Homo sapiens: one gene and its partners. The protein of the gene in region 1 interacts with the protein of each later gene in a pairwise test. Each region holds a gene or a part of one and is shown on either strand. Other genes may lie near its edges.

Region 1 (10,079 bases):
AGACCCATATCTTTTGTGTTATTGACAAGTAAAAATCTCTATATTTACTGTGTACAGCATGATGTTTCTAAATGTGTATACAATGTGGAATGGCTCAATCCAGTGAGGTAACGTGCATTATCTCACATACTTACCTTTGTTTTTTTTTTTTGTGGTGAGAACATTTAAAATCTACTCTGTTTGTTTGTTTGCTTTTGTTTTTGTTTTTTTTGAGATGGAGTCTCACTCTGTCGCCCAGGCTAGAGTGCAGTGGCACGATCTCAGCTCACTGCAACCTCCGCCTCCCGGGTTTCAAGTGATTCTCCTGCCTCAGCCTCCCAAGTAGCTAGGATTACAGGCGCCCACCACCATGTCCATCTAATTTTTGTATTTTTAGTAGAGACGGGGTTTCACCGTGTTAATCAGGCTGGTCTCGAACTCCTGACCTCAGGTGATCCACCTGCCTCAGCCTCCCAAAGTGCTGGGATTACAGGCATGAGCCACCACACCCAGCCTAAAATCTCCTCTCAACAATACAATGCAATACATTGTTGTTGACTAAGTCACCATGTTGTACAATAGATCTCTTGAACTTATTCTTCCTGTCTAACTGAAATTTTGTATCCTTTGACCAAGAAGACCCATGTCTTTAATGTGTTGACTTAGAAAAGACCACATATTGTTAGGAAAGAGGTTCTGTGTAGAAGTATTGACAATGGGAAAGGCAGAACCACTCTTCCATTCGCCTGAAGACACTGACCAGGCAACCAGGAATTGTAGATGTGGGTTTTCTAATGGCTCATTCAGCCCCCATCTGCCAGCTATGTGAAAGTTACTGTGCTTGGTGCCTTGGGGGTAGATGGGGATGGACTACCCTGCCCCCTAAAAGCTCCGGAGGCAGAGGCTGCAAGATGGTAAGGATAGAATGCAATCACAGATGAACCAGCTTTCCTGGGAGAGGGTGGGATAAGCTGATGTCTGGCAGGGAGAAGCAGTCAGGGAAGACATGGGGAGGAGGTGGCGGCATCATCAAGTGGAGCATTGGAAAGCATGAGTAGGACTTTCAGCAGGTGGAGAAAGGCCCCAGAACAGCCCGTGCCTTGGATGCTGCTGGCATTTTAATCATCTGAAGATCTCATCAGAAAGCAGATTCTGATTCTGTAGTTCAAGGGGAGGAAGCAGAGATTCTGCATTTCCCACAAGCTCTAAAGGACAAGTCTCTAGAGGACCACAGAGCTGCCTGCCTCTGCTTCCTTGACTTTTGAGGTGGAGGCCAGCCTGGAAGCAGCGGCATAGGCTTCAGATGCCACTGAACTGGGCGGAGCGGGAGCCTGAGACTGATCTGGCTTTAGGTGCTCGAAACCTTTCTTTGATCACAGGGCCATTAACTCCGCCTTTGGGCCTCCTCCTTCTCCTGAAATCCCCCTTTAAAAGTTCACTTGGTAATTTCTATCAATATCTATTTGATTTTATGATCTATGAACTCTTAGGACATATTGCCAGAATGGTACTTTGGTCCTTCAGAAAAAAATTTATTCTTTTTTTTTGAGATGGAATTTCGTTCTTGTTGCCCAGGCTAGAGTGCAATGGCGCGATCTCAGCTTACTGCAACCTCTACCTCCCAGGTTCATGCGATTCTCCTGCCTCAGCCTCCTGAGTAGCTGGGATTACAAGCATGCGCCACCACACCCGGCTGATTTTGTATTTTTAGTAGAGAGGGGGTTTCTCCATGTTGGTCAGGCTGGTCTTGAACTCCAGACCTCCGGTGATCTGCCAACCTTGGCCTCCCAAAGTACTGGGATTACAGGCATGAGCCCCCGTGCCCAGCCTAGAAATTTATTCTATTATTGGTAGATTTCTTAATGTTTTTTAATAAGCTGCCATCTTGTTGTGATCAAGTTCAAAAAATATATTTTTTAAAACCATATGAATTAATTAGGTGCGCCTCTTGTTCCCACCTAATTGGGGGAAAAGGAGATTATACCAATCATTGTTTTAAAGCCGTCAGGAGTCCCAGTTAACCTGTGTGACTTTAGCAGGAGCCACCAAGGTAACTGCAGATGGCACAAGTCAGACACCATCAGAATTCTGCTCTCCCAGTGTTTGGGATAATTGTGGTAGAGACCATGAATTAGAAACACACATAGGCAACACCCACTTACTTATTGGTGGCAGGAGAAGACCTAGAAACATTGTAGAGATGTTTCTGCTTCCTCCCAAGGGCCAGCAGTTTACACCCGGGGGCCACATCACACCAGATTGATTTCAGTGTATGTGGTGGGGCCTTCACTGTTTACATTAGTAATTTGATCCTTCCATTAAGACCCCTGCACCTATTCTTTAGGTAAGAATTGAAGCAGGTCTGATTTCCGACAGTTACACTGCTGTCCCAGAGGAAAACTCAGTGGCAGTATGTTGTTGTTCAGTGTTATATAAGCATGGCAGGTACGTATGTCCGCAGATGTATACTAAACATATACGTACATATATGTTTCCAATTTTCTTCCTAGATCTTGGCCCTGATTGCATTCATCTGCATAGAGACCATCATGGCATGCTCCCCGTGTGAAGGCCTCTACTTTTTTGAGTTTGTGAGCTGCAGTGCGTTTGTGGTGACTGGCGTCTTGCTGATTATGTTCAGTCTCAACCTGCACATGAGGATCCCCCAGATCAACTGGAATCTGACAGTGAGTACAAGCGGCCACTCTGGCCATGAAAGGATCACGTGCCTGTTGGCTCCAAGGAAAAGCTGGAATCTCTCCAGGTCATGTTTGGTTCTAGTTCATTTTGATCCTTAAATATTCTATTATAATTCAACTGTGAAATTTTAAATTTCTTTACTGGGTTAAGTAAAACTACAAAATAAACTGAATCTTAACTAATGGGAGAAACATCATAACAATTATTTTGGCCACCTTAAAGATGTCATTTCAATTTTGCAATCATCTGAGAAGACTGGTCATGTTGATATTTGGAGAATATGGGAAATAAAATACAGTGTAGACATTTACATACTTTTCAGACTGGACCTAAAAGCCATTTATAAAAATATTGATTCTGGAAGAATTGAAAATATGAATGAAAATGCCAGTAACTTACAGAGCCTAGGAATATTATTAAATTCAAAGCAACTAGGAGGACCTGGGGGGGTTTGGTGGTTTGATCAGAAAGTCTTGAGTGGAAACCTGCCCCTTCTCCCCATGGTTTGGGTTCTTAGCTCTGTTTGGCCACCCTTGTTAATCAGATGGGAAGCACAGGGCTGGTCAGTCCTAGACCCCCTTTCCTAGACTGTGTCCTTACTGTGCTGAATGAGAAGAGGATTTTAATATCATTTGGTTTTCTTGATATTTATTTACAAATTAGCATGTGCAAGAGCTCAAAGGGAGTCAGTCAGGGAGATCCACGTAAGCACAGTCGGCTGCCTCACACTGCTGTGCCTGTGGGATGAGAACGCCGTGGGCACCTCAGCTGCTGAGGGGGAAGCAGGAGGAGAGCGCCTCAGACCAGCTACCCTTGCCTGAGATTGGGAGCCACACAGAAGCCACACGTGGCTCTGTCTGTGTTTGGCTGCTGCTGGGCCCATGAGAAAGTGTGGGCCCCAAGGAGGAGGCTGGAGCTGCCACCTCCCTGTCAGGGCTGCTCTCCTGGTGTGCCCTGGGTGGGGAAGGTCCTCCTTACAGGTGCTCTCTGGGTTGTCCTAACCAGCACAGACTCCTAAAGGAGGAAAAAAGGAGAGTTGCTGATCTAGAAAAGTAGATATCAGTTGAAAACTTAGCTGTTTTTTGTCTTAGCACTGGAAGCTGAGAAAAATGTGGTGGTATTTTAAATTTAAGCTCTAAAACCTCAAGATAACTAGAAGCATTTTGTCTGAGTTTTTGTGACAGGTTGTAATGTCTCAACTATTTTTAAAATGAGGTTTATGTTATCCATAAGAAAATGCTTACAGAGCATGTAGTAGACTGTTTAAGAGAACTTTGCAAACCTCCCCCAGTTAAAATGCTCATACTATGGATGCAGGGTCAAGGTCAAGGTCAGCATCTTGTTCATTGCTATCCTACTTGCCTAGTGTTCCTGAGGCCTGTCAATAAATACTTGTTGAGTAAGGGGCTGGGCTGTGAAACCCTGCGGGAGGACCTGTTTGACAAAGAAGCAGCTGCTGGAAAGGTTAAGACTATAGGCATTGAGTCAGACAGACCGAGCTGGGTTCAAGTCCAAGGTAGCTGCTGAAACAGGCTGTGCATGACCCTGGGCTAGTCACTGAGAGCCCTACATTGGTGAAGTGTCAGCACTGGTAAAGTGGAGATAATAATTTTTTTTTTTGCAGGGTTTTTTTTTAAGTATAAAATGAGGTAATGGGTGTAAAGGCATCTGGTAAGGCCTCAAACCAGTGGGCGCTGTGGCCAGTGCAGCAATGTTCATCTCACCTGAGTAAGAGGTGTCCTGGCACGCTGCTGTTATGTTACCCACACTGTTCCCCTGTTTACTTCCACCAGGTTTGACTTGACCCCCTTAATTCTGTTTTGTCCATTTATCTGACAGCCATTAACCTGTTAAAAGACTTCATGCTTCAGATTTCTTACTAATTTATACCAGCGTTTATCCCCAGAAATACCTACTTTTTGTTGTTTTTGGGTTTTTTTTTTTGTTTTTTTGAGACAGAGTCTTGCTCTGTTGCCCAGGCTGGAGTGCAGTGGCGTGATCTCGGCTCAATGAAACCTCCGCCTCCCGGGTTCAAGCGATTCTCCTGCCTCACCCTCCCTAGTAGCTGAGATTATGGGCATGTACCACCATGCCCAGCTAATTTTTGTATTTTTAGTAGAGATGGGGTTTCACCATCTTGGCCAGGCTGGTTTCAAACACCTGACCTCAGGTGATCCACCCACCTCAGCCTCCCAAAGTGCTGGGATTACAGGTGTGAGCCACCACACCCAGCCCAGAAATACCTATTTAGTGAGCTTTCTGGAATTCTGCTTTTTCTATTTTAATCATGAAAGATTTTCCACTTGTTGACTACCACACTACCATGTCACCGGTCATGTTGAGGTGCATCTCTCCCCAGGGAAGTTGATACTCGTTCTTTTCCTCTGGGTGGTGGTGGCCTGGGCCTGTGGTTGGGTGTTGGTGATGTGGTCACTTGAGAACACGATCCTGTTCTTTGGGATCCGTTCTAGACTTTCCACTCTTTTGGAGCAGATAAAGGCTGTGTGTTTGCCCAACAAAAGGGCATATACCTTACATGAACTTGAGGAGATGGTACCTTTTTTTTTTTTTTTTGAGATGGGGTCTTGCTCTGTCGCCCAGGCTGGAGTGCAGTGGTGCGATCTCGGCTCACTGCAACCTTTGCCTCCCGGGTTCAAGTGATTTTCCTGTCTCAGCCTCCTGAGTAGCTGGGATTACAGGCATGTGCCACCGTGCCCAGCTAATTTTTGTATTTTTAATAGAGACGAGGTTTCGCCACGTTGGCCAGACTGTTCTCCAACTCCTGATCTTAGGTGATCTGCCCACCTCAGCCTCCCAAAGTGCTGAGGTTACAGGCGTGAGCCACTGCACCCTGCCAAGATGGTATCTATTAAAGGCAGCTCATGTCCAGTGTTCTCTGAGAGGGGTGAAAAAGTGAGCTCCTCACGGCCGATCTCAGCTCATCAACTCGCTACAGAAGGGTTGGCCTTGGCTGTGTTGTGTTTCTGTAACAAGGTGGTGGGAGTATTGGGAGTATTTTTGTCTCCAGCAGAGCCAGCCTGATGGTTAAAATAGGGTGTGATTGGTATAGATTTAAAAACACAGGTCATTCCAGGAGCCCAGGTTGACATAAATATGGATGAGAAATGATAAATAAGGAGGACAGTGCATAATTTTCTACAAGCATAATTTGATGGAATTTGAATGATTCTGTTAATGTCAAGTTTTTGGTTTGGGTTTATTTTTGGATGGATTGTGGGACTTTGATATATATATATATTTATATATATATATTTATATATATATATATTTATATATATATATTTTGAAACGGAGTTTCGCTCTTGTTGCCCAGGCTGGAATGCAGTGGCACAATCTTGGCTCAACGCAACCTCCACCTCCCAGGTTCAAACGATTCTCCTGCCTCAGCCTCCCGAGTAGCTGGGATTACAGGCATGTGCCACCACACCCGGCTAATTTTTTTGTATTTTTAGTAGAGAGGGGGTTTCTCCATGTTGGTCAGACTGGTCTTGGACTCCCAACCTCAGGTGACCTGCCCGCCTCAGCCTCCCAAAGTGCTGGGATTACAGGCGTGACCCACCGTGCCTGGCGATATTTGTTTTTCTCTGTGTCCTAGGAGCTCATACACTCACATGTTCCACCCCTGTTTACTTTGATTAGTGCCACGGGGCTCCTCCTTTCCTCCCCTTCCCTTCTGGGATGTGGCGCTATCTAAAAGGCGTGTCTGATCCTCCCCCATCCCAAAAGCCTGCCAGTGGCTCCCACTCAACTGGCCCCAGAGCCCAGGGCCAGCTCAGCCCCACTTCCCAGAAGAGGAGGTCTGCACTTGCCTTCTCTACTTCCCCCTCTCCTAATCTCACTTTTCTAATCTCTTATTGTCAAATTCTGAAAAAATTATGAAAGTAAATATGGAGTTTAATATACAGCCACCACCTGGGTCAATAAATAGGAGATTGTCAACACCCCAAAAGCTTCCCATGTGTATTTTCCAGCTAAACACACCCCCTGCCCCTTCCCCCAGTCCACCATCCTGACTATGTGGTGGTCTTCCGCAATTCATCTTCAGCCCACTCCAGTCTGGCAGCATTGAAAGTCCCCTGGTCAGGAGCCTGGGACGGGGCCTCCGTGTTCCTAGATCCTCTGGTTGCTCTTGGGTTCTCACCCCACTCAACATCCTGGTGGTGTCTGCTATGGGGCACTCTGTCCTTCCTGCCATACTCTCTCACCTTGCATCCTGGGCCCCCACACTGTCCTGTTTTTCTTCTTCCGCTTTGGTCACCCTTTCTTAGTGGGCTCTGTGGCCCTGGAGGCCTCTTAGGCCTCTATCTCAGAACCCAGGCTGGGTGCTGTGGTGGGTTGAGAACAGTTGGCAGTTACCCACAGGGGCCACTGGCTGAGCCCTGAGCCCTAGGGCGTGACTCGTCTTGTGTTTTTTTATTTTATTTTATTTTATTTTATTTTTTTATTGATCATTCTTGGGTGTTTCTCGCAGAGGGGGATTTGGCAGGGTCATAGGACAATAGTGGAGGGAAGGTCAGCAGATACACAAGTGAACAAAGGTCTCTGGTTTTCCTACGCAGAGGACCCTGTGGCCTTCCGCAGTGTTTGTGTCCCTGGGTACTTGAGATTAGGGAGTGGTGATGACTCTTAAGGAGCATGTTGCCTTCAAGCATCTGTTTAACAAAGCACATCTTGCACCGCCCTTAATCCATTTAACCCTGAGTGGACACAGCACATGTTTCAGAGAGCACAGGGTTGGGGGTAAGGTCATAGATCAACAGGATCCCAAGGCAGAAGAATTTTTCTTAGTACAGAACAAAATGAAAAGTCTCCCAAGTCTACTTCTTTCTACACAGACACAGCAACCATCCGATTTCTCAGTCTTTTCCCCACCTTTCCCCCTTTTCTATTCCACAACACTGCCATTGTCATCATGGCCCGTTCTCAATGAGCTGTTGGGTACACCTCCCTGACGGGGTGGTGGCCGGGCAGAGGGGCTCCTCACTTCCCAGTAGGGGCGGCCGGGCAGAGGCGCCCCTCACCTCCCGGACGGGGCGGCTGGCCGGGCGGGGGCTGACCCCCCACCTCCCTCCCGGACCGGGCGGCTGGCCGGGCGGGGGGCTGACCCCCCACCTCCCTCCTGGACGGGGCGGCTGGCCGGGCGGGGGGCTGACCCCCCACCTCCCTCCCGGACAGGGCGGCTGGCCGGGCGGGGGCTGACCCCCACCTCCCTCCCGGACGGGGTGGCTGCCGGGCAGAGACGCTCCTCACTTCCCAGATGGGGTGGCTGCTGGGTGGAGGGGCTCCTCACTTCTCAGATGGGGTGGCCGCCGGGCGGAGGGGCTCCTCACTTCTCAGATGGGGCGGCCGCCGGGCGGAGGGTCTCCTCACTTCTCAGACGGGGCAGCTGGGCAGAGACGCTCCTCACCTCCCAGATGGGGTCGCGGCCAGGCAGAGGCGCTCCTCACATCCCAGACGGGGCGGCGGGGCAGAGGCGCTCCCCACATCTCAGACGATGGGCGGCCGGGCAGAGACGCTCCTCACTTCCTAGATGGGATGGCGGCCGGGCAGAGATGCTCCTCACTTTCCAGACTGGGCAGCCAGGCAGAGGGGCTCCTCACATCCCAGACGATGGGCGGCCGGGCAGAGGCTGCAATCTCAGCACTTTGGGAGGCCAAGGCTGGCGGCTGGGAGGTGGAGGTTGTAGCGAGCCGAGATCACGCCACTGCACTCCAGCCTGGGCACCATTGAGCACTGAGTGAACGAGACTCCGTCTGCAATCCCGGCACCTCGGGAGGCCGAGGCTGGCGGATCACTCGCGGTTAGGAGCTGGAGACCAGCCCGGCCAACACAGCAAAACCCCGTCTCCACCAAAAAATACGAAAACCAGTCAGGCGTGGCGGCGCGCGCCTGCAATCCCAGGCACTCGGCAGGCTGAGGCAGGAGAATCAGGCAGGGAGGTTGCATTGAGCCCAGATGGCAGCAGTACAGTCCAGCTTCGGCTCGGCATCAGAGGGAGACCGTGGAAAGAGAGGGAGAGGGAGACTGTGGGGAGAGGGAGAGGGAGGGGGGAGGGGGAGGGTGAGGGGGAGGGGGAGAGGGAGAGGGAAAGTCTTGTGTTTTTTTTTTTCTGACACCAAATACATTTTCCACACCAAGCTGTTCTGTAATCCTTTGACACTGACTGGGTGTTTAACAATTCCGTTCAATTCTGACACTAACTCTCGGAGTTAGCACAGATCCCACAGACGAGGGCCCAGTCCCACAAGATGGCCCCACTTTAGACACCAGCTGCAAAAGGGGTGCCCAGGCACTTCTGTCTGGCTGAGTACAGATTCGATGGTTTCCACCACCCCTCAGGTTCAGTCATTTTCTGCAGTGACTCACAGGACTCAGGAAGGGGCTTTACTTAAACAATTACTGATATGTTTTAAACGATACAACTCAGGAACAGCCACATGGGAGAGATGCATAGGGTGAGGTCTGGAGGGCCTCAGATGCAGGAGCCTCTGTCCTTATGGAGTCAGAATGAGCTCCACTCAGAAGCTCCCCAGACCCCATCGTTCAGGTATTTTTTCTGGAGATTTCACTAGGTAGGCATGACTGATTGGCCATTTGGTGATTGAACTCAATGTCCAGCTCCTCTAACTTCCCTGGAGGTCCAGGGGATGGGGCTGAAAATTCCAACTCTCTAATCACCTGGCTGGTTTTTCTGGTGACCTGCCCCTATCCTGAAACTGTCTACCACCCTCTTCCCACAAAAGTCACTTCGTTAGCATAAACTCGGGTATGATTGAAAGGGACTCATTATGAATAACAAAAGATGCTCATATCACTCAAGAGATTCAAGGATTTGATTAAATATTTTTCATTATAGCACACTCATTCTTTCTGGGACCCAGTTTCCTCATCCATGAAAGTAGAGCAAAATAACAAGTCCTGTCTTGTGGGCATTTTGGATCATAATTAGGTTAGAATTCACTGGGAGCGATATGATTGGCACAGTGACTCCATAGATGGTAGCTGCTACTGTCATCAACATTATAATTGTCCCTTTGATCCTGGGGCCATTCAAGCACAAGTGAGTGCAAAGGATGGGTCGAGTGCTTGCAAACGTTCTTGTCTCCTGGATGGATAGGACAGAGGCTAGAGCCAGCCACCTAGCACATTGGTTTGGGGGCCAACCAGGATTGCAGTGACAGCCCCCAGCTGATTCTGTGTACAAATATTTCATTTGTGATCAGTTCAGCCTTGATTTGTTTCATGGCCCAGGAACTCAAGTGCTTGATGCTGACTTAAGATTTGCAGTATTCCAGTATTAAGCCTTTCAAGTTGTGTGAGTAATAAGTGCTTATTGTAAAACAAAACAAAACAAAACAACAAAAAAACCCCAAAAACTA
Region 2 (9,652 bases), on another chromosome or scaffold:
CCCGCCCGGGGTCGCCGCACAAAGGCGGCTGCGAGGGCGTCCCGGGCCGGGCTTCGGCGGCCCCCCTTGGGGGCGGGCAGGAATCCCAGGGCGTTGCGGGGGTCCCGGCTGCGGGTGTGGGGGCCGCCACCGCCCCCTCCCGCCTGCGTCCGCGCCGGCTTCCGCATCTGCTCGGCGGCCTCCTCTGCGTCTGGCTGTCTCCCCCCACTTGCGTCTCTCTCCCCCCCTTTGTTCTCGCCTCCGAGCGCTCCCCGCAGCCTCCCCTCCCCCCTGGTATTTAAATCGCCTGCAGGCCCGGAGCCCTCCCCCCGCGGGCCTCCGGGGACACGCAGTGTCCATCCCAGTGGAGGGGCCCATCGGGGGAGGGGCGGAGGGGGAGGGTCTCCTTTGTCTGCGCGGCGGCGGCCGCCTGCGCCGGGGAGGGAGGAGGAGGGGGAGCCCGGCCCGGCGCAACCCCCAGGGCCTCTCCTCGGGCCGAAACCCGTGGTTCCTACAAAGAGGAGCCAGGACTAGAATTAGGGAATTGGGGGCAGGGGCTGCCCTGGGGTCGTGGGGGAAGGTGGCATAGAGCACACTGGGGCCCAGAGGAGGAGAAAGTGCCTGGTTGGGGTGCAGAGGGGGTGCCAGAGTCCAGGGCGGGGGTTCCACTGGAGGGAAGGGGTCCGAATCGCCAGGATGGGGCTCCCAGCACCAGACGGAGACCTCTCTGCACGCGCTTAGGGCCCTGGATCTGGAAGCCGGGAAGGGGTGGGGGTGGGAACTTATCCGTCTCTCCCCACACAAGCACAGCCCTCCCCCGCGGCCTCTGCTTCCGCGTCCCTGTGTCGTCTCCGCGGAGTCTCATGCTCTTCCTTCCTCCCCCCAGCCGGCTCAGTTCGGGGAAGCTGCAGGAGTTCGGCGTGGGTGATGGCAGCAAGCTGACCTTGGTACCCACCGTGGAAGCGGGCCTCATGGTAAATGGCCATGGGGCTGCGTGCCCCCAGAGGCCCCCGCACACAGGCAGTAGCCCCTCCCTCGGTACCTGTCCGCACACACACTACCTGGGGCCCCCACCCCGCCAGCCAGCAGGGCCCTCTCCACCCCCTATTCCAGCCCAGGATTCCGACCCCACACTCAGGCCCCTCTCCTCCCTCTCTTTGTAGTCTCAGGCCTCAAGGCCGGAACAGTCCGTGATGCAAGCTCTCGAGAGTCTCACGGAGACGCAGGTAAGACCTCGCCAGCCCCTTCCTAACAGGGCAGCCCTGGGAGCAGGGTGCCTTGGCCACCGACGGGGCCTGGGGGTTGTCTGTGCTCCCAGGAGGCTGGGGGAGGGGAGGGGACGCGCCACCCCGCCTGGGTGCCAGCCTGGCCTGGCCTCCCCACCTCCTCTCCCCCAAGATTCACCACCTGACCCGGAGGGCTTTCTCTCCCACGGTGGCTGCCCTGGGGGAAGGGGGCCTGGCTTTCACAAGACTGCCTGCAGGATGACCTTGGCCTATGGGGCCTCATCCCCGCTCACACCCTGGCCTGCATCCCCAGCCCCCTCCGCCCCCACCGAGGAGCCCCCCTCCAGCCGCTGTGGCTTCCCCAGAGCGAGTTTCTCCTTTTTTACATTTCTGCTGAGGGCTGGGGGTGGCGGCTTGGGTGACACTCCTTCCGCCTTCCGTGACCCCCATCGTGAGAGGGTGGGGATCTCGTCACCCTCCCCTCCTCTCTCTGGCCTTTGTTCTCTACCCCGAAAGGGGAGGGGGCGGGGGTGCCCAGCCCTGGGGCCAGTGAGGCCTAGACAGGATGTTAGGAAAATATTTAGTAAGCGGCCAGGAGGGAGGCTGGGGCTGGCCCTCACCCGGTTCCCGGTTTTGCTGCGGACTTTTTTTTTTTTTTCTCCTTCTTTCCTCATTTTCTTGGCTGCGGCCAAGCCTTCCTCAGACAAGGGCCCTGGCCACCTCCCAGGAGGGTGACACAGGCCTCAGCAATCCGCCCGCTGCCAGGGTGGGGGACGCAGGCTGCCACCCGCCCCAGCAAGGGGTGGCCGGCTTCCCGGGCCTCCCTGGCCCCGAGGCCCGCACCCCCTTCCGCTTTCCCAGCGGCATGTAGAGTCCTGCCCTTTCCCTACATCGCGGGGGCAGGGCGGGGGCCGGGAGCTGGGTGGTCTGCCATGGGGGTGGCCACAGCAGCAGCAGCAGTGGCGTGGGGGCAGAGCCGGGGTCCCGAGCCAGGGCGGGGGCTGCAGGTGATTTCCTGGGGCGAGTGTGAGCAGAGCTCCCCGCCGCTGGGGGGCTGCGGTTGGCAGGGGGCCCAGGGCGTGTTGGCTTCACACCCTCCTCCCTGGGCGCCTGCGTCAGGAAGGAGCTGGGTTGGGGGGGGCTGGAGGGGGTGCTGGGCGGAGACACTGGGCTCCCCAGGGTTGCTTCCCTGCCTGGCACCGAGTCATGCCCGCCCATTAGCCTTCCCCAGGGAGGAAGTTGCAGGGCGGGTGGTGGTGGGGACTCCAGCTGCTCTCGGGAAGCCACCCCGGGCCCTTCCTGCAAAGGCTGTCTTGGGGCAGGGGGGTAGGGGGCCGGGCAGGCTGGGCCGCAGGGTGGGGGCTTCACCCTGCCCTCCTCCCTGCCTCCCTCCCCATGGGCCCCAAGCAGAGAAGGTTACGCCAGCTACTGCCAGTGGAGAGGAGAGCCGGGAGGGAGAGCTGGGAGGCGGTCGGTTCTGAGTCATCCCAGCCTATGTCACTTCTCAGAAACCTCCGCCACCCCCCCCCCCATCCCGGCCACTGGGGAGAGCAGGGCTCTGGCCCATACCCAGAGCAGGGGGCTTGGCGAGGACAGGGTGAGATTCAACCCACACCCACCCTGAACGGGGGCAGATTGAGGGTTTCTGTGCTTGGAGCAGGTTGTGCCCTCCGGGACTCCAGCCCCAGGGCGGTCAGGGCCCCTTCCTGCAGCCTTGCCACAGCCCCCTAGGCCTCCGCCCCGCCCAGGACAGATAAATATTTATCTTGAGAAAGCAAAGGTTAGGACAGAAGAATTCGTGCAGGAATTCCACCCACTTGCTGGCCCTGGTGACTTAGCTGGGAGGGGGCCTGAGGTGGAGCCCCTCCCGTATCCACAGGCAGAGAGGATCTAGGGGCCCATGAGGGTGGGGGAAAGGCAAAGTGAAGGTTGTTTGAGGTCAGTGACTGCCAGCTGGGCCCCGCCCCCTCTGGCCTCAGTTTCCCCTTGCAAGACCGACCTAGTTGGCCAGGGAGGGGCAGGCCCCCGTCTGACCCGCCTCTGTCCCCACAGCCCCCAGCGGCGCCCGGGCCGGGCCGGGCTGGCGGAGGAGGCTTCCGGAAATACAGATTCATTTTATTTAAGCGTCCGTGGCACCGACAGGGACCCCAGAGCCCAGAGAGGGGCGGCGAGAGGCCCCAGGTCACAGCGCGGGGGGACTGGGCCGGGCTGGGCTGGGGGCGCCGCAAGCTGGGGCTCCCAGCTGACGGACCGCTCTCCTTGCAGGTCAGTGACTTCCTGTCGGGCCGTTCGCCACTGACACTGGCCTTGCGTGTGGGCGACCACATGATGTTCGTGCAGCTGCAGCTCGCGGCCCAGCACGCTCCACTGCAACACCGCCATGTGCTGGCCGCTGCGGCCGCCGCCGCTGCTGCGCGGGGGGACCCCAGCATAGCCTCCCCCGTGTCCTCGCCCTGCCGGCCGGTGTCCAGTGCCGCCCGAGTCCCCCCGGTGCCCACCAGCCCGTCCCCTGCATCTCCCTCGCCCATCACAGCCGGCTCCTTCCGGTCCCACGCAGCCTCCACCACCTGCCCGGAGGTGAGCCTGGGGAAGGGAAGGGTGACCCTTGGTTGGAATCCAAAGGGTGGGCCGTCCTGGGGAGGTCTTGGGGAGGACAAGGACTCTTAGTCCCAGGTGAGTCCCTTGTATTAAGGGCTATCCTGTGACCTCGGGCTGGTGGGTGATCCCCCAGCCTAGATTGGTGGGGTATTTCTAGATCCTGAGTTGACGGTCATCGCCTGACATGACCTGGACCAGTAGATGATCTCTTGATCTTTGACTCATGGGTCATCTCTGTGTCCTGGGTTGGTTGTGACCTCGTGACCTTGGGCTAGTTTATCTCTAAACCCTGTGTTGACAGGTCATCTCCTGACCTGGGCTGGTGGGTGATCTCTGGTCCCTGGGTTGCTGGTGATCCCCTGATCCTGGACCCCGTGCTCATGTGCCCCTTCCTCCCATCAGCAGATGGACTGCTCCCCCACGGCCAGCAGCAGTGCCAGTCCTGGTGCCAGCACCACGTCTACCCCAGGGGCCAGCCCTGCCCCCCGCTCCCGAAAACCCGGCGCCGTCATCGAGAGCTTTGTGAATCACGCCCCGGGGGTCTTCTCAGGGACCTTCTCTGGTAGGTGTCACAGCACATGTGTGAGCTCACGTGTGTCCCGTGACCCTGTGCATTTGGGGTCTACATCCACCCACAGGCGACTCCACATATTCTGGGCATACACAGGCTGTGTCCGTCTGCTCACTTCACATGTCCCCCAGGAATCCCCCACACACACGCCTGGCCCTGCCCGGGGGGCCGCGGGTCACCAGGCGCCTGCATACTGGGGACGTGTCCCGCTCCCGCCCCGTGGTCCCTCGTGCACATCAGCCCACATGTCCACGCCATTGCCTGAGCTCATGAGCTCACACCCGTGGACGCCCGTCCTGGACATGCGGGACTGTGCCCGTGCCGGGCACTCACGGCCACCTCTGCCCGCAGGCACGCTACACCCCAACTGCCAAGACAGCAGCGGGCGGCCGCGGCGTGACATCGGCACCATCCTGCAGATCCTGAACGACCTCCTGAGCGCCACCCGGCACTACCAGGGCATGCCCCCTTCGCTGGCCCAGCTCCGCTGCCACGCCCAGTGCTCCCCGGCCTCACCGGCCCCCGACCTGGCCCCCAGAACTACCTCCTGCGAGAAGCTCACGGCTGCCCCCTCAGCCTCCCTGCTGCAGGGCCAGAGCCAGATCCGCATGTGCAAGCCCCCGGGTGAGTGGCCACCCTCGGGGGTCCTACCTTCCCCGCCCGCCTGGGCTTCTCAAGGCCCCTCTGTGTGAGCTGGTGGGCTCAGGAGCAGCTGACCTGCCCAGGGGCTGGGGGGGATGGCAGCTGCCGTGGCCACTGCTCTGCTCCAGCCCGGAGAGAAGGCAGCATGTGTGTCAGGGCACAAAGTGTCCTTGTGTGCTCCCGGGGGGCCACAGGCCCACTTCCTCCTGCCCCACCCCCACCCGGGGCATCATCTCCAGATGGCATTTGGTGCCTCTGTGAATGGCCAAGTCAGGCCTGGCAGGCCGAGGCGGGGCCAGAGCCCACCCCTAAGCATTTCAGTGACTTGGAAAAGCAGCGAACACAACCCCCCTGCCAGCCTGGCCCCAGCTACTCCCAAACGGCGGGTTACTCCCTCCAGAGTCTCACCAGAAGATGGCTACTGTACTGCCCTTGGGCTCTGCACCCGTCGCGGGGGCTCCTCCCAGCTCAGTTTAAAAGTGGGAAACTGGCCGGGCGCGGTGGCTCACGCCTGTAATCCCAGCACTTTGGGAGGCCGACGCGGGCGGATCACGAGGTCAGGAGATCGAGACCATCTTGGCTAACATGGTGAAACTCCGTTTCCACTAAAAATACAAAAAATTAGCCAGGCGTGGTGGTGGGCGCCTGTAGTCCCAGCTACTCGGGAGGCTGAGACAGGAGAATGGCGTGAACCCAGAGGCGGAGCTTGCAGTGAGCCGAGATCGCGCCACTGCACTCCAGCCTGGGCGACAGAGCGAGACTCCGTCTCAAAAAAAAAAAAAAAAAACCAAGGTACAACCCCCAAGTATCTCCCCTCGGATCACAGAAGCGGCCAAGCCCCCTCCATGTAGGACTCCAGGAAGAATGAGGCAGGACAGTCCTGACCTCCCCAGCTCATGGCTGAGCTGGAGAATTAGAAGCCAGCTGCGTAGCTGGGACTCCAGGCAAACACCACCATGCCCAGCTAATTTTGTAATTTTTGTAGAGGAGGGGTCTCGCTCTGTGGCTCAGGCCTGTCTCGAACTCCTGAGGTTGCCCAGGCCTGTCTCGAACTCCTGAGCTCAAGCGATTCTCCTGCCTCGGCCTCCCAAAGTGCTGAGATTACAGGCGTGAACCACTGTGCCCGGCATGGTGGATGTCCTTGACTGTTTCCTTTGCTGACCTCCCTCCAGGGAGGGCAGGACTGTGTCTGACCTCAGGGGCATTTGCTGGGGTCTGGGGTGGTCCTCTGTGTTCAGCAGGTGGAGGCTTTGGGAGTCACAGGCCACTACCTCCTTTGCAGGGGACCGGCTTCGGCAGACAGAAAACCGCGCCACGCGCTGCAAGGTGGAACGGCTGCAGCTGCTTCTGCAGCAGAAACGGCTCCGTAGAAAGGCCCGGCGGGACGCGCGGGGTCCGTACCACTGGTCACCCAGCCGCAAGGCCGGCCGCAGCGACAGCAGTAGCAGCGGGGGCGGCGGCAGCCCCAGCGAGGCCTCCGGCTTGGGCCTCGACTTCGAGGACTCCGTGTGGAAGCCAGAAGTCAACCCTGACATCAAGTCAGAGTTCGTGGTGGCTTAGGATCTTCGGATCGGCCACCCTCGCCCCTCGCACCCCAGCCCAGGGCGGCGGGGACTCCGAGAGCCCCGGAGAGAACGTGGCCCAGCCCTGGAGGGCAGGCGGCCACTCCCCCAGCCAGAAGTCTTTTTTTCTTTTCTTCTTTTTTATTATTTTTTTCTTTTTTTAAAAAGTTCTGACCGTGGTTTCCTGGACTCTTCATGGGCTTTGCTTCCTACCTCCTTCACCCTTCACTCCTGCCCTCCTCTTCCTCCTCCTCCTCCTCCTCCGTCTGTCTCCTTTCACCTCTGCGCCAGGTCGGTCCTCCCTGCCAACCTTCCCCAGCTCCAATATGTAGCAGTCTCTCTGGATGGCGGAGAGTGAAGGAGACGGAGAAACGCGCCCCATCCCTTCCGCCGCCTCCTTTCCCCCCCGACCCTATTCAGGTTTTAAGTCAAAAATGTCGATATGTCATTATGCACTTTACAGATGAGGGGAGGGGCCGCAGTGCGCAGAACCCACCCCACCCCCCAGTGCAGACTTCGGGGTCTCCACCCCAGGCCAGCAGCGCCCACTGGGCTACAGCAAGCCAACAGGTCACAGAAGCCAACGAGGGGACTGTTTCTCTTCCACTCCTATCCTCTTTTCTTGATCTTTTTTTTGCATTTTCCTTCATTTCTTTAACAAGGAGAGCAAAGCTGTTTTAGCAGAGGCTGGGGCTGAGGTCCCCATGGGGTTTGGGTGCAGGGGCATGGCACCCTTTCCTGTCGGGAAGGGAGAGGGGAACTACCCCCCCAGCCTGCCCTCCGCCCCGCCCCAGCCGGCGGACTGTGCTGTTTCCTCCGCCCCCACTCCCGTGTTTTCTGACCTCCTGCCTGAGTTTGGGGTATTTATAGACTATTAATTTTCTGACTGAGCCAATAGTGGTTGGGGAACTCTTGAAAAAGGGGAGAGAATGGCTGGGTGCTGGGGAGTTCCCCCCTCCGAGCCCTCCTTCCCGGCCCAACCTGAGGGATGTGGATTTGGGACTGTCTGGGGGCCCCTCCTGCAGCGAGGATGGGAGGGGGTGCTGAGCTGTGAATCCCCTGGGCAGGGGGCGACAACTCCGTGTAGCATTAACCCCCGTGGCGGGGTCCGCTGCTGGTCTAATTTGGACCCCCTGCCTCTCAGTGCCCCTGCCCTAGGGGTGTCTGTCTCCAGAGGGGAGGGACAAATCCCCTACTGGGGCCATTTCAATGGGGTAGTTTTTGGATTTTTTTCCCCACTCACTTTTTATTTTTTAATGATAATGGAGATGTCTGGACCCTTCCTCACCCCACCTGTCGGTCTTGTCCTGGCTCTGCCTGTCCCCCACCGTTGTTCTCGTAGGTGAACCCCAGGTCCTCAACTCCCCCCCTTTATGTGTTGAAAGTTAATGGTTTCAGATGTGAACATCACGTGTTATAACTGTAGCGCTGTAAATTTTTTTGTGGGAGGGTGGGCAGGGAGGGGTCCCAGAGGGTAGAGCTCAAGGATTTTGGGTTTTGTTTTGTTTTCATTTTTCCAAAAAAAAAAGAAAAAAAAATAGAAAAAAAAGGAGTAAAAGGGGCGGGTTTGTTTTTTGAAGAACTGTCTTGGATACCTATTTAAATGTGTGTTCTGTTTTGTTTTTTAACGATTTTTAAATAACGTCTGTGCCTCCACTGGTTGAGGGTGGAACCTCCAGGCAGGAACCGGCTCGCCACCCTCTGCCCGGTAAGGGCTGCCCAAGAAAGCATTACCCGCCCTCGGGGGGTCGGGCTGTGGGGGTCCCGGCACCTGGCGTGAGTTTCATGTATGAAAACATAAAATTGAAAAAAAAAAAAAAACCTACACGAGCACCGTGATTTCAAGTAATAAACAGAAAATGAAACACACATTGACTCCCGCCTGCTCGCCTAGTGGGGGGATCTGGCCTTGGTTGGGAGGGTTCCTGGGGTGGGATGTCAGCTCAGGGAGTCAGAGGGACTGACCTGGGTCCCAAGGCCCCGAAGAGGGGGTGGGGCAGGGGTCAGGGCCCTGAGAATTTCCCACGCTCCTTCCCCGGCTGCCGGGTGGGCAGGAAGCAGCCAGGGTGGGAGGGAGGAGCCCAGCCACTTCCTGGTACCCAAGGCCGGAAGTCCCTTAGGGTGTGGGGCGAGGGCCTGCCTGCCTGCTTCGTGGCCTGGGCAGGACCCTGGCCCCCTCAGGACCTGCCAGTATGGGGGAGACGCGACCACCAGCTCTCCCCAGCCACAGGAGTCGGGGACTCCCACTCTGCCACACCCACCTGCTCCCCTTCCTGGAGTCTCACATCTGTGTGGCTTGCTGCAGGGAGATCACCAGGCCGACTGGGAGGACCTAGGACTCCGCAGGGTACCTTGGGCTGGCAGGTGATACAGGCCTGGCTTGACCCAGCCCTGGGGGGCCTCTCTGGCCACACCTCCTGACATTCCAGCCCTTCCCAGACCTGGCCTTCAGCTCCAAACCTCCCGGCCTTTGCCCCCTGTCTAGGAACACCCCTGGTCCGGCTGTCCCTTGCTGTCTGGGAACTTCCCCAGCCTGCGCCTTCCACCCCTGTCCACCCCGTCCCGCAGACCCCACCCTTCCCTCTCTCTGTCCCTAGCCTGGAGCTCCCCGTGAGCCTCACCAGGACTGAGTCCTCTCTGGGGTCCCACCTCCACCCATGTCCGGGCTGGGCAGAGATGAGGCAATAACACTATTTCATGTCTTTTTTTAAATTTTGTAACCTGTATTTCCTCAGGTAACAAGAGTTGCCTATGAGAAGTAATTGGGCTCCCATTTTATAGATGGGAGAACAGAGGCCCAAAGAGGAACATCACTTGGCCCAGAGGATTTGGGGTGTTTGTTCAATGATGTGACCTCCACCCCTTATCCCATCTCTAGGGGCCCCAGTACCGGGAGCCCCCAGGGGAAGGGGCACAGGTTCAGAGAGTGGCCTGGGAGCACCTTCCTGAGACCCCTCTGCCCCTCCCAACGCCCAGTCAACCCCAAATCATCGCACGCCCACGGCAGGAAGGCGGATGCCCAGTCAGGCGGCACCCACCCCCCGCCCCGTCCCTGGTGCGGATGTCCCCTCGGG
Region 3 (10,790 bases), on another chromosome or scaffold:
TCTTCTATTGGATGAACGTTGAAAGTTCTTGGATCTCTTCTCCACTTCCTTTATTATTTTCCTTTCGTAATTTCTGTTTTGTAATCCTTTTCTGCTATATGATAAAGTAGTGCCATGCCTGAACACATTTTTTCATTGGGTTGTTCCAGTTTCTCTTATTGATATGGAAACGCTTTGTTATATATTAGAGATGGTTACTGTTAATTTATTGGGGATGCTTCATTTTCCCCAAAATTTGCCTTTTTTTTTTTTTTTTGAGATGGAGTCTCACTCTGTTGCCGAGGATGGAGTGCAGTGGTGCGATCTCGGCTCACTGCAAGCTCCACCTCCCAGGTTCATGCCATTCTCCTGCCAGGTTCATACCATTCTCCTGCCTCAGCCTCCCGAGCAGCTGGGACTACAGGCGCCCACCACCACACCCGGCTAATTTTTTGTACTTTTAGTAGAGACGGGGTTTCACCGTGGTAGCCAGGATGGTCTCGATCTGCTGACCTCGTGATCTGCCCGCCTTGGCCTCCCAAAGTACTGAGATTACAGGCATGAGCCACTGTGCCTGGCCTAATATTTGCCTTTTTAAACAGTTTTTTATGGTGTCTTTTGACTTAGATGATACTTTAATTTTTACGTCTTTAAATATGTCAGATTCATTATTTATAGCCTTGGTGTAATATCAGGAAGTGCCTATGCCAACTCAAGATGTCTTACACTGTAATATTTTCCTAAAATTTCATCTAGTTCTTTATGACTTCACGTTTTCACATTTAAGTCTCTGAATTTTTAGAATTTATTATTTTATGTGGTTGAAAGTAAGGATTTAATGTTTATTTTTCCAAATGGATAGACACTTGTCAACAATCCTTTATTACACAACCCATCTTTTGCCCACTGTTTGGAAATGCATGCTTAAGTTTGTATATAAATTAGTTTGTTTCTTGACTTATTATTTTGTTTCACTAATTAATCTATTTCTAAGTGTATTCATTTTTGATTGCTGCTGTAACAAATTGTCAATAGCTAAGACAACACTGGGCCCGGTGGCTCACACCTGTATTCCCAGCACTTTGGGAGGCTGAGACGGGCAGATCGCTTGAGGTCAGGAGTTTGAAACCAGCCTGGCCAACATGGCGAAACCCTGTCTCTACTAAAAATACAAAAATTAGCCGGTGTAGTGGCGTGCACCTGATATCCCAGCTACTCGGGAAGCTGAGACAGGAGAACCGCTTGAACACGGTAGACAGAGATTGCAGTGAGCCGAGGTCACCCCACTGCCCTCCAGCTTGGACGACAAAAGTGAGACTCCATCTCAAAAAATATTTATATAGCTAAGACAATTTTTGAAAAAGAAGAATAAGGTGGGAGGAATTGCTCTACCATATTTCAATACTTCTTATATAGCTACAGGAATCAAGACTATATATTATTGGGAGAAAAATAGACACATAGATCACTGTAACAAAATAGAAATCCTAGAAATAGCCCCACACTGATTTTTTACCAAGAGACAAAAATAGGGAAAGATCATCTGCTTAACAAATGATGCTGGGGCAGTTGCAGAGCCATAGGCCAAAAAGAAAAAAAAAAAACCAAAAAGGCCTAATCTTCACACCTTTATACAAAAAAGTAAGTCAAGTGGATCATAGATTTAAATCTAAAATATAAAACTATAAAAGGCCGGGCACGGTGGCTCACGTCTGTAATCCCAGCACTTTGGGAGGCCGAGGTGGGCAGATCACGAGGTCAGGAGATCGAGACCATCCTGGCTAACACAGTGAAACCCTGTCTCTACTAAAAATACAAACAAGTTAGCCAGGTGTGGTGGCAGGCGCCTGTAGTCCCAGCTACTCGGGAGGCTGAGGCAGGAGAATGGTGTGAACCCGGGAGGTGGAGCTTGCAGTGAGCCGAGATCGTGCACTCCATCCTGGGCAACAGAGCAAGAATGCATCTCAAAAAACAAACAAACAAACAAAAAAACTAAAAAAAAAGTTTTACAAGAAAATATAGGAGAAGCGTCTGAGATCTAGGGCATAGTGAATGGTTCAAAAAGCATAATACATAAGGAAAAAATAAATTAGATTTCATCCAATTTAAAACTTTTGCTCTGCAAGAAATCTTGTTAGAAGGATGAAAAAATATGGTATGATCTGAAAGAAAATGTTTGCAAACCACATATCCAAGAAAGGACTCACATCCAGAATATGTAATGGATATGTATAGTACTCTCAAAACTCAACAGTAGGCTGAGCGTGGTGGCTCACATTTGTAATCCCAGCACTTTGAAAGGTCGAGGTGGACGGAGGGCAGATGCCTTGAGGCCAGGAGTTCAAGACCAGCCTGGGCAACATGGCAAAAAACCCATCTCTACTAAAAATACAAAAATTAGACAAGCATGATGATGCGTGCCTGTAATCCCAGCTACTCTGGAGGCTGAGGCATGAGAATCACTTGAACCTGGGAGGCGGAGGTTGGAGTGAGCCAAGATCGTGCCACTGCACTCCAGCCTGGGTAACAGAGCAAGACTCTGTCTCAAGAAAAAAAAATAATAAAAACCTCAATGGTAAAAAATACAAACAAATAATCCAGTTAGAAAATCATGAAAAGATATGAACATACATTTCACTGAAGAGGAAATAAGCAAATAAGCACATGAAAAGATGTTCAACACTCATTTGCTTCACTAGATGCAGAATAACACCACGATGAGGTATCACTACACACTTATTACAATAGCTAAAATAAAAGACATAGTGACAACACCAAATGGTGACAAGGATGCAGAGAAACTGGACACCTTATTAAGTGCTGCTGGGAAGGTAAAATCTTACAGCCACTCTGGAAAGCAGTTTGGTAGTTTCTTATAAAACTAAACATGCAATGACCATACAATTCAACAATTACACTTCAGAGAAATTAAAATGTATGCCCATCCAGAAACTTGTACATAATTGTTCATAGCAGCTTTACTTGTAATAGCCAATAGGTGGAAATAATCAATATGTCCTAAAATAAGTGAATGGTCAAACTGTGCTACATCCATCCCCTGGAATACTACTCAGCAATAAAAATGAACTATTGTCAGGGCACAGTGGCTCACCCTGTTATCACAGCACTTTGGGAGGTCGAGGCAGGCGGATGATGATGTCAGGAGTTCAAGACCAGACTTGCCAGTATGTTGAAACCCCATCTTTACTACTGATACAAAAATTACCCGGGTGTGGTGGCGCGCACCTGTAGTCAGAGCTACTCGGGAGGCTGAGACTGGAAAATTGCTTGAACCCAGGAGGCAGAGGTTGCAGTGAGCCGAGACACTGCACTCTAGCCTGGGTGACAGAGTGAGACTCTGTCTCAACAACAACAACAATGAACTATTGATACACAAATATCAATATCTTGGAGAAATCTCCATGGAATTATGCTGAGTGAAATAAGCCCATAAAACATGATATACTATAAGATTTCACTTGTACAGCATTGTAGAAAAGACAAAATTGTGGAAACGAAAAACAGATTTGTGGTTGCCAGGGATTAGGGATGGCGGATGGGAGGAGAGTATTACTAAAAATGAGTAGCACAAGGGATAGCATTGCGGTGATGAAAATGTACTGTACATTTTTTTTTTCAAGAGGGATTCTCACTCTGTCTCCTAGGCTGTAGTGCAGTGGCACGCTCTCGAGCTCACTGCAACCTCTGCCTCCTGGGTTTGAGCTATTCTCCTGTCTCAGCCTCCCATGTAGCTGGGACTACAGGCGGGTGCCACCATGCCTGGTTAATTTTTGTACTTTTAGTAGAGACGGGGTTTCTCCATGTTGGCCAGGCTGGTCTCAAACTCCTGACCTCAAGTGATCTGCCCACCTCGGCCTCCCAAAATGCTGGGATTACAAGCGTGAACCACTGCACCCGGCCATGTTCTGTCTGTTTTTTTTTCTGAAATACAAGCTTTGTTTAAAATGTAAAGAAATATTAAAAGTAAACTTTTTTTTACAAATTATAATCAAGCACTCAAAACAATTTAGGAATGTTAAACACTAATTCTTAATTCAAAATAATGACATCCATAGACTATATCCTGGTGTTGGTCAATATAAAGTTTACTTAATATTAGTATTTTATAGGCCGGGCACAGTGGCTCACGCCTGTAATCCCAACACTTTGGGAGGATGAGGCGGGCGGATCACGAGGTCAGGAGATCGAGACCATCCTGGCTAACACGATGAAACCCTGTCTCTACTAAAAATACAAAAAATTAGCCAGGCGTTTTGGTGAGCACCTGTAGTCCCAGCCACTCGGAAGGCTGAGGCAGGAGAATGGCGTGAACCCAGGAGGTGGAGCTTGCAGTGAGCGGAGATCGAGCCACTGCACTCCAGCCTGGGTGACAGGGTGAGACTCCGTCTCAAAACAAAAACAAAAACAAAAACAAAACAAAAAAACTAGTATTTTTTATATGCTTAACCATTGATCGTTCCTAAAATTCAATGAAAACAATGATTTGACTTTATAAGGTGAAGCCTTTTATGTAATACGCTAGAGATATCTTTTTCAAATACAAAACCTTTATACCAGCAAGGAAATTATAAAAGCATATATAAAGTATACTGAAGGATGTGATTTAAAGGCTGTCTGTATATACAGATGCATTTCACCTTATAAAGTACACGTGCACATCAAAACACTTTCACTGAATATAGATGCCATTACATTCTCTTAACACTACAAAGCAAATGTCAGGTTCATAAACATTGTCCTATTATGTATCAACTGAAAAAACATATATACACAAAAAGATTTTGAAGACACATGGGAGTGGAATGTGCCTACATTTAGAGCAGAGCTTTTACAGGACCACCTGTCTCCAGCCGGCTCCCAGGAACCACTGAAAACAGCTGCTACCCTCAGAACGGCAAGATGGTCTTGTTAATGATTTCACTGGACTCTCGAATCTCATCCTCCTTGATCACCAGCAGAGGCGAAACCTGATGATGTCACCATGGGTGGGCTTGGCCAGAAGTCCATAATCTCGAAGTCATAGACACACCTCCCAAGCATTACAGTCTATGGTTTCTTTAATAACAATAGCATTTAATAATTATTTTCCTCCCGGGCACAGTGGCTCACGCCTGTAATCCCAACACTTTGGGAGGCTGAGGCGGGTGGATCGCCTGAAGTCAGGAGTTCGAGACCAGCCTGGCCAACGTGGCGAAACCCCGTCTCTACTAAAAATACAAAAATTAGCTGGGCATAGTGGTGCATGCCTGTAATCCCAGCTACTCAGGAGGCTGAGGTAGGAGAATCGCTTGAACCCAGGAGGCAGAGGTTGCAGTGAGCCAAGATTGCACCATTGCACTCCATCCTGGGCAACCAGAGTGAACCTCTGACTCAAATAATAATAATAATAATAATTCTGTTCCTTTTATGGCAGTTACAACATCAGAAGGTAGCTTCATGGGTTCACTTCTCACGATAATACCCATTTTTTTTCTGCATTTTCAGCAAGATTTTCTTGTTCTAAAACCTCAAGGGCTGCGATGGTCACTCAGCAGCCTAGTGGATTGCCACCGTATGTGGACCCATGTTCCCCTGGCTTAATGCTCAGCATTAAGCCATCATCCCACAGCACTGCAGACACAGAGTATCAACCTCCAGAAAGGGCCTTTCCAAGGAGGACTATATCAGGTCTGACATTTTCATGATCAACAGCCAGCCATCTACCAGTTCTGGCCAATCCTATCTGTATTTCATCAGCAATGAACAGAACCAAGCTGGGAGCACGAGATGGGACAAGGGTAAGTTAAAATACCACAAAGCTCCCTGTTCTTACGGAGATTCCGCTGATCTCTCTCTTGCTCTTTCTTTCTTTTTTTTTTTTTTTTCAGTCTTGCTCTGTCGCTCAAGCTGGAGTGCAGTGGTGTGATCTCAGCTCAATGCAACCTCGGCTTCCCAGGTTCAAATCATTGAGTGAGCCCAGGAGGTCAAGACCAACCTGGGAAACATAGCAAAAGGCAGGGTAGTGCATGCCTGTAGTCCCAAGGCCGAGGCGGGAGAATCACTTGAGTCCCGGAGGTAGAGACCAGCCTGGACAACATAGCGAAACTGTCTCTAGTAGAAAAATTAAAAATATTAGTGGGGGCGGGGTGGTGTGAACCTGTAGTCCCGAGGCCAAGGCAGGACGATTGCTTGAGCCTAGGAGGTTGAGGCCAGCCTGGCCAACATAGTGAAACCCCATTTCTACTAACAACAAGAACAACAAAAAAATAGCGTGGGTGGGGTGGCTCACTCCTGTAGTTTTGAGGCCAAGGTGGGAGGATTGCTTGAGCCCAGGAGGTTGATACCAGCCTGGCCAACAAAGCGATAGCCTGCCTCTCCTAAAATAAATAAATAAATAAATAAATAAATAAATGAAAATAAAAATGAGCAGGGCAGAATGGCACACGCCTATAGTCCTGAGGCCAAGATGAAAGCATCATCTGAGCCTAAGAGATTGAGGCCAGCCTGGGCAACATATCGAAACCTGGTTTCTACTAAAACGAAACAAAACAAAACAAAAAATAGCTTGGGCAGGGTGGTGCGTGGCTGCGGTCCTGAGGCAGGAGGATCCCTTGAGCCCAGGAGCTTGATGCCGGCCTGGCCAACATAGGGAAACATGGTTTCTACTAAAAAAAAAAAAAAAAAAAAAAAAAAAATCGTAGGCAGGGTAGTGCATGCCTGTAGTCTCGAGGCCATGGTGGAAGAATGCCTTGAGCCCAGGACGATGAGACCAACCTGGCCAATGAGACCAGCCTGGCCAACATAGCAAAACCTGGTTTCTACTTAAAAAAAAAAAAAAAAAAAAAAGCGTAGGCAGGGTGGTGAATGCCTGTAGTCCCGAGGCCGAGGTGGGAGGATCGCTTGAGCCCAGGACGTCAAGACCAGCCTGGCCAACACAGCAAAACCTTCTCTATTAAAAAATCAAAAAATAAAAAATATTAGTGGGGGTGGGGTGGTTTGCGCCTGTAGTCCCGAGACAGAGGCGGGAGGATTGGCCAAGGCAGATGTAACCAATACCACAATCACATCCCATAAGTAAATACATTTTCCTCTCTCCAGGGCTACAGGTAAAGGATGGTAATTCTGCACACCACACTTAGATTCCCTTTCAAAAATGTAAGCAGAGGTTGGAGGGCCTTGGACTGTTTTTTCAGTGGCAACAGATATAGAAGCCACTGAAGAATGAACTCCACGACTAATTATAGCAAACCTCCGCAAATGTGCTAGTTTGGAAAACATTGTGGCTTTCAAGTAGAAAAATCACAGATTGACTATTTTTTTCTTCCCACAGTTCAGACTAGAATCCAGATTTTTAACCCAAGATCCAGGAACAGTCTTCAGAGAGATCAAAATCTGACGGCGCCTGAGGACCACCCACTTTTTCGCAGTGGCGACAAGGTGTGGCTGGAGGAGGAGACATTATTCTGCAATGTCGCTGCCCAAGGATGATGGACCAATCAGGGCAGTTAGTGAACTCCATCTGGCCAATTAGAAGTCAGAACAGTAGGCGGAACAAGCGAAGCGGATGTGGCTTCTATCAGTCCCGGCTCCAGGGACACAACCTTCTCAAAGTGGGGGTGGAGACTCTAATTTTCCCGCCTAAAGCATCCCCTGGGATTCGCTACTTTAAGTTCAGAGTACGCATGCTCTGATTTTCTCTCTCTTTCGATTCTTCCATACTCAAGAGTACGCACGGTCTGATTTTCTCTTTGGATTCTTCCAAAATCAGAGTAAGAATACACTGATTTTCTTTTTCCATTCTTCCTACCCCTCCCCTCCTCCGTGGTGCATTTGCTATCTAGTTTTAATAAGGAGTGTATATGAGGCAGGCCGCCATCTTAAATCTTTCCTGTCAGTTTCTAACCGCCATCTCAAATCTTTCCTGTCAGTTTCTAACTTTTTCAGGTATGGGATTTTTCCTAGGAACTCTGTAGTAACTTAAGAAATTTGGGCCTGGGGTGGTGGCTTACACTTGTAATCCCTGCACTTTTGGAAGCCACAGCTGGTGGATTGCCTGAACCCAAGAGGCGGAGGTTGCAGTGAGCCATGATCACGCCAGTGCACTCCCGACTGGGCAACAGAGCGAGACCCTGTCTGAAAAAAAAAATCACTCAAATCTTTCCTGCTGGGCTCAAGTGATCTTCTCACCTAGGCCTTGGGACTACAGGCGCGCACCACCCCGCTTCTGCTAAATTTTGTTTGTTTGTTTTTTTTAGTAGAGATGGTTTTGCTACGTTTGTGAGCCTGGTCTCAAGCTCCTGGGCTAAGGCGATCCGCCCACCTTGGCCTTCCAAAGTGCTGGGATGGTACAGGCCTGCTCCACCAACCCCAGCTAACTTTTTGTTTATTTTGTAGACGGGGGTTTTGCTGTGTTTCCCAGCCGGGTCTCGACCTCCTGGGCTCAAGTGACCTGCACGCCTCGGCCTCCCAAAGTGCTGGGATTACAGGCCTGAGCCACTGCGCCTGGCTGATTGCTGCAACTTGAAATGCCCCACATTCTCTCTAAGTGATGGCGGGCTCTTGTAGTCTCAGAAATTCTAGCTCTCTTCGTTCTAATAACTTACAAATCACCCAGTAATAGCCTCTGAACACATTCATATTAGCGATGCTCATTTCTCTTCAGCAGAACAGAACCCCCCATCCCTCTGCCTGATCAGATCCATCACCAAAGAGACCACGTTATCTCTGGGACTAACTTCCCTTCCTTTATTTATTGAGCGGGGGTGTCAGCATGCCCCACTGAATAAAATTACACAGTCATGTCCCTGCCTCCCCAACAAGGGTCCATACATCTTTCAGGGGAAGCCTAGCTCCAGGGAAATTACTAACAACATTAGCCAACCCCCTCCCAAAGACTCAAGGCTGCTTTGCCCATAGGAAACCTGTCATCCCCTATCAATACTTCTCCCAGAGACCCCTGGTTCCTGGTTTTCGTCTGATTTCTCCCCATATCCTTACTCAGGGACAGATAAGCCCCGGATGGAGAAATGCAGCACCTGATTCCAGGTGACTGAGTGGCCGGCCTTCACTGATTTCTCCCTCCACAAGACCAAAGGTCCTGCGGCTGGAAAGTCTCAATCTGTTTCTCTTGCAGGTCAGACTACTCCCTGTGCCATGAACGGAGATGACACCTTTGCAAGGAGACCCACGGTTGGTGCTCAAATACCAGAGAAGATACAAAAGGTGAGGTGACCTAGAGGGAGCAGAGTAGTGACCCAGGGGACAGTGTGGGGTGACCCGGTTTCTGAGGAGGGGAGGACAGAGATACTGGAGACAAGGAGCAGGGTCTCAGGGGAGATCTGGACCCTTGGGAGCCTCCCACCCTCACTCTGTCATCACCTAGCATCCCTGGAGACAAGTCTGTGACCTTGCACTACATTTGGTGACTCTCAGTCCATTCTGGAAGGTGGGAGGAGAGCCAGCCAGCAGCATTAAAGCCCGACAGTGTGGCAGGGGTGAAGCTAGGAAGGTCCCTCATGTTCTGTCAGTTAGCCGTGGCATCAACCAGGAAGGATTATCCCCACTTCCCAGATCCAGCACACAGGAAGCGACTCCAGCTGAATGGCAGACATGCCTAGCTGAGTCCCTGCCATAATTCCTTTTTTTTTTTTTTGTAGGCCTTCGATGATATTGCCAAATACTTCTCTAAGGAAGAGTGGGAAAAGATGAAAGTCTCGGAGAAAATCGTCTATGTGTATATGAAGAGAAAGTATGAGGCCATGACTAAACTAGGTAACAGAAAGTTCTAGGTACAGACAAGTCTGGGGACACATGAGCATCCCTTTTCCTGCTTTGGCTATTTCTTAGGCTGCAGAAAGTACCTCACATTTTCCTTTTGTGTAGGGAAAAATCGCAAGGCAGCTTCTGGGTGTTCTGCTCTTCTATATCCTGTCAGGGCTGAGGGCAGTGACTGGCCACAGTGGAGCTCATACCTGGATCCTGCACGTTTCTCTCTCTTAGGCTTCTGTTCTGATGAGCCCAACTGTCTCTGTGGCATCCCGGCAACCATCCTACCCCCACCCCACACACACCCACTCTACCTTCTCTCGGCTTGTCTCTTTCTTTTTTTTTTTTTTTTGTTTGAGTCAGTCTGAATCTGTCACCTAGGCTAGAGTGCAGTAGTGCAATCATAGCTTACTGCAGCCTTGAATTCCTGGCCTCAAGCAATCCTCCAGCCTTAGCCTCCCAAAGTGTTGGTACTACAGACATGAGCCACCGTACCAGGCCCAAGCTTGTCTCTTAAGGAATAAACATTTTGCTTCTTTCTAGGTTTCAAGGCCATCCTCCCATCTTTCATGCGTAATAAACGGGTCACAGACTTCCAGGGGAATGATTTTGATAATGACCCTAACCGTGGGAATCAGGGTGAGTAGATGGGAAGGGGCTGGAAAGGGTCTCCTCAAGCCCAATTGCTTTTCAGCTCAGCTACCTGGGAAAGAGCCTCAGGCATTTGTTCCCTCATACACATCGGGGCAGAGTGAAAAAAAAAATTGCATGCAGAAAGTTAACTACAGAGGTCATTCATATAAAATTTTAAAACATGCAAAAGAAGAATATATATTTTTATGGATAATAAGTAAATGGTAAATGTATACAAACATGAATGTGAATAAAAAGCCATCAAACTAAGGTGACTGGCTGTAAGTGGAGGAGGGAGGGAGGGCAGGGATTGCTGAGTGCTGCACAGACAGCTTCAGCTGTGACTTGTTGATAGTGTGTTTTGTTTGTTTTTGTTTTTGAGATGGAGTTTCACTCTTCTCGGCCAGGGTGGA

What was found.
Region 2: the proteins of CMTM4 (region 1) and MIDN interact in binary tests that used the Homo sapiens proteins (3 or more experiments, as listed by UniProt).
Region 3: the proteins of CMTM4 (region 1) and SSX3 interact in binary tests that used the Homo sapiens proteins (3 or more experiments, as listed by UniProt).

The regions. Positions count from the first base shown.
Region 1 is NC_000016.10:66,628,992-66,639,070, reverse strand, and holds part of CMTM4 (CKLF-like MARVEL transmembrane domain-containing protein 4), read left to right. Parts: intron 1-2,489; coding exon 2,490-2,666; intron 2,667-10,079. UniProt on the Homo sapiens protein: Acts as a backup for CMTM6 to regulate plasma membrane expression of PD-L1/CD274, an immune inhibitory ligand critical for immune tolerance to self and antitumor immunity. May protect PD-L1/CD274 from being polyubiquitinated and targeted for degradation.
Region 2 is NC_000019.10:1,250,697-1,260,348, forward strand, and holds the end of MIDN (midnolin), read left to right. Parts: intron 1-865; coding exon 866-953; intron 954-1,142; coding exon 1,143-1,205; intron 1,206-3,257; coding exon 3,258-3,386; intron 3,387-3,470; coding exon 3,471-3,782; intron 3,783-4,205; coding exon 4,206-4,365; intron 4,366-4,725; coding exon 4,726-4,998; intron 4,999-6,298; coding exon 6,299-6,576; 3' UTR 6,577-8,447; downstream 8,448-9,652. UniProt on the Homo sapiens protein: Facilitates the ubiquitin-independent proteasomal degradation of stimulus-induced transcription factors such as FOSB, EGR1, NR4A1, and IRF4 to the proteasome for degradation. Promotes also the degradation of other substrates such as CBX4.
Region 3 is NC_000023.11:48,353,592-48,364,381, reverse strand, and holds the start of SSX3 (protein SSX3), read left to right. Parts: upstream 1-7,678; 5' UTR 7,679-7,748; intron 7,749-9,112; 5' UTR 9,113-9,132; coding exon 9,133-9,201; intron 9,202-9,635; coding exon 9,636-9,750; intron 9,751-10,287; coding exon 10,288-10,383; intron 10,384-10,790. UniProt on the Homo sapiens protein: Could act as a modulator of transcription.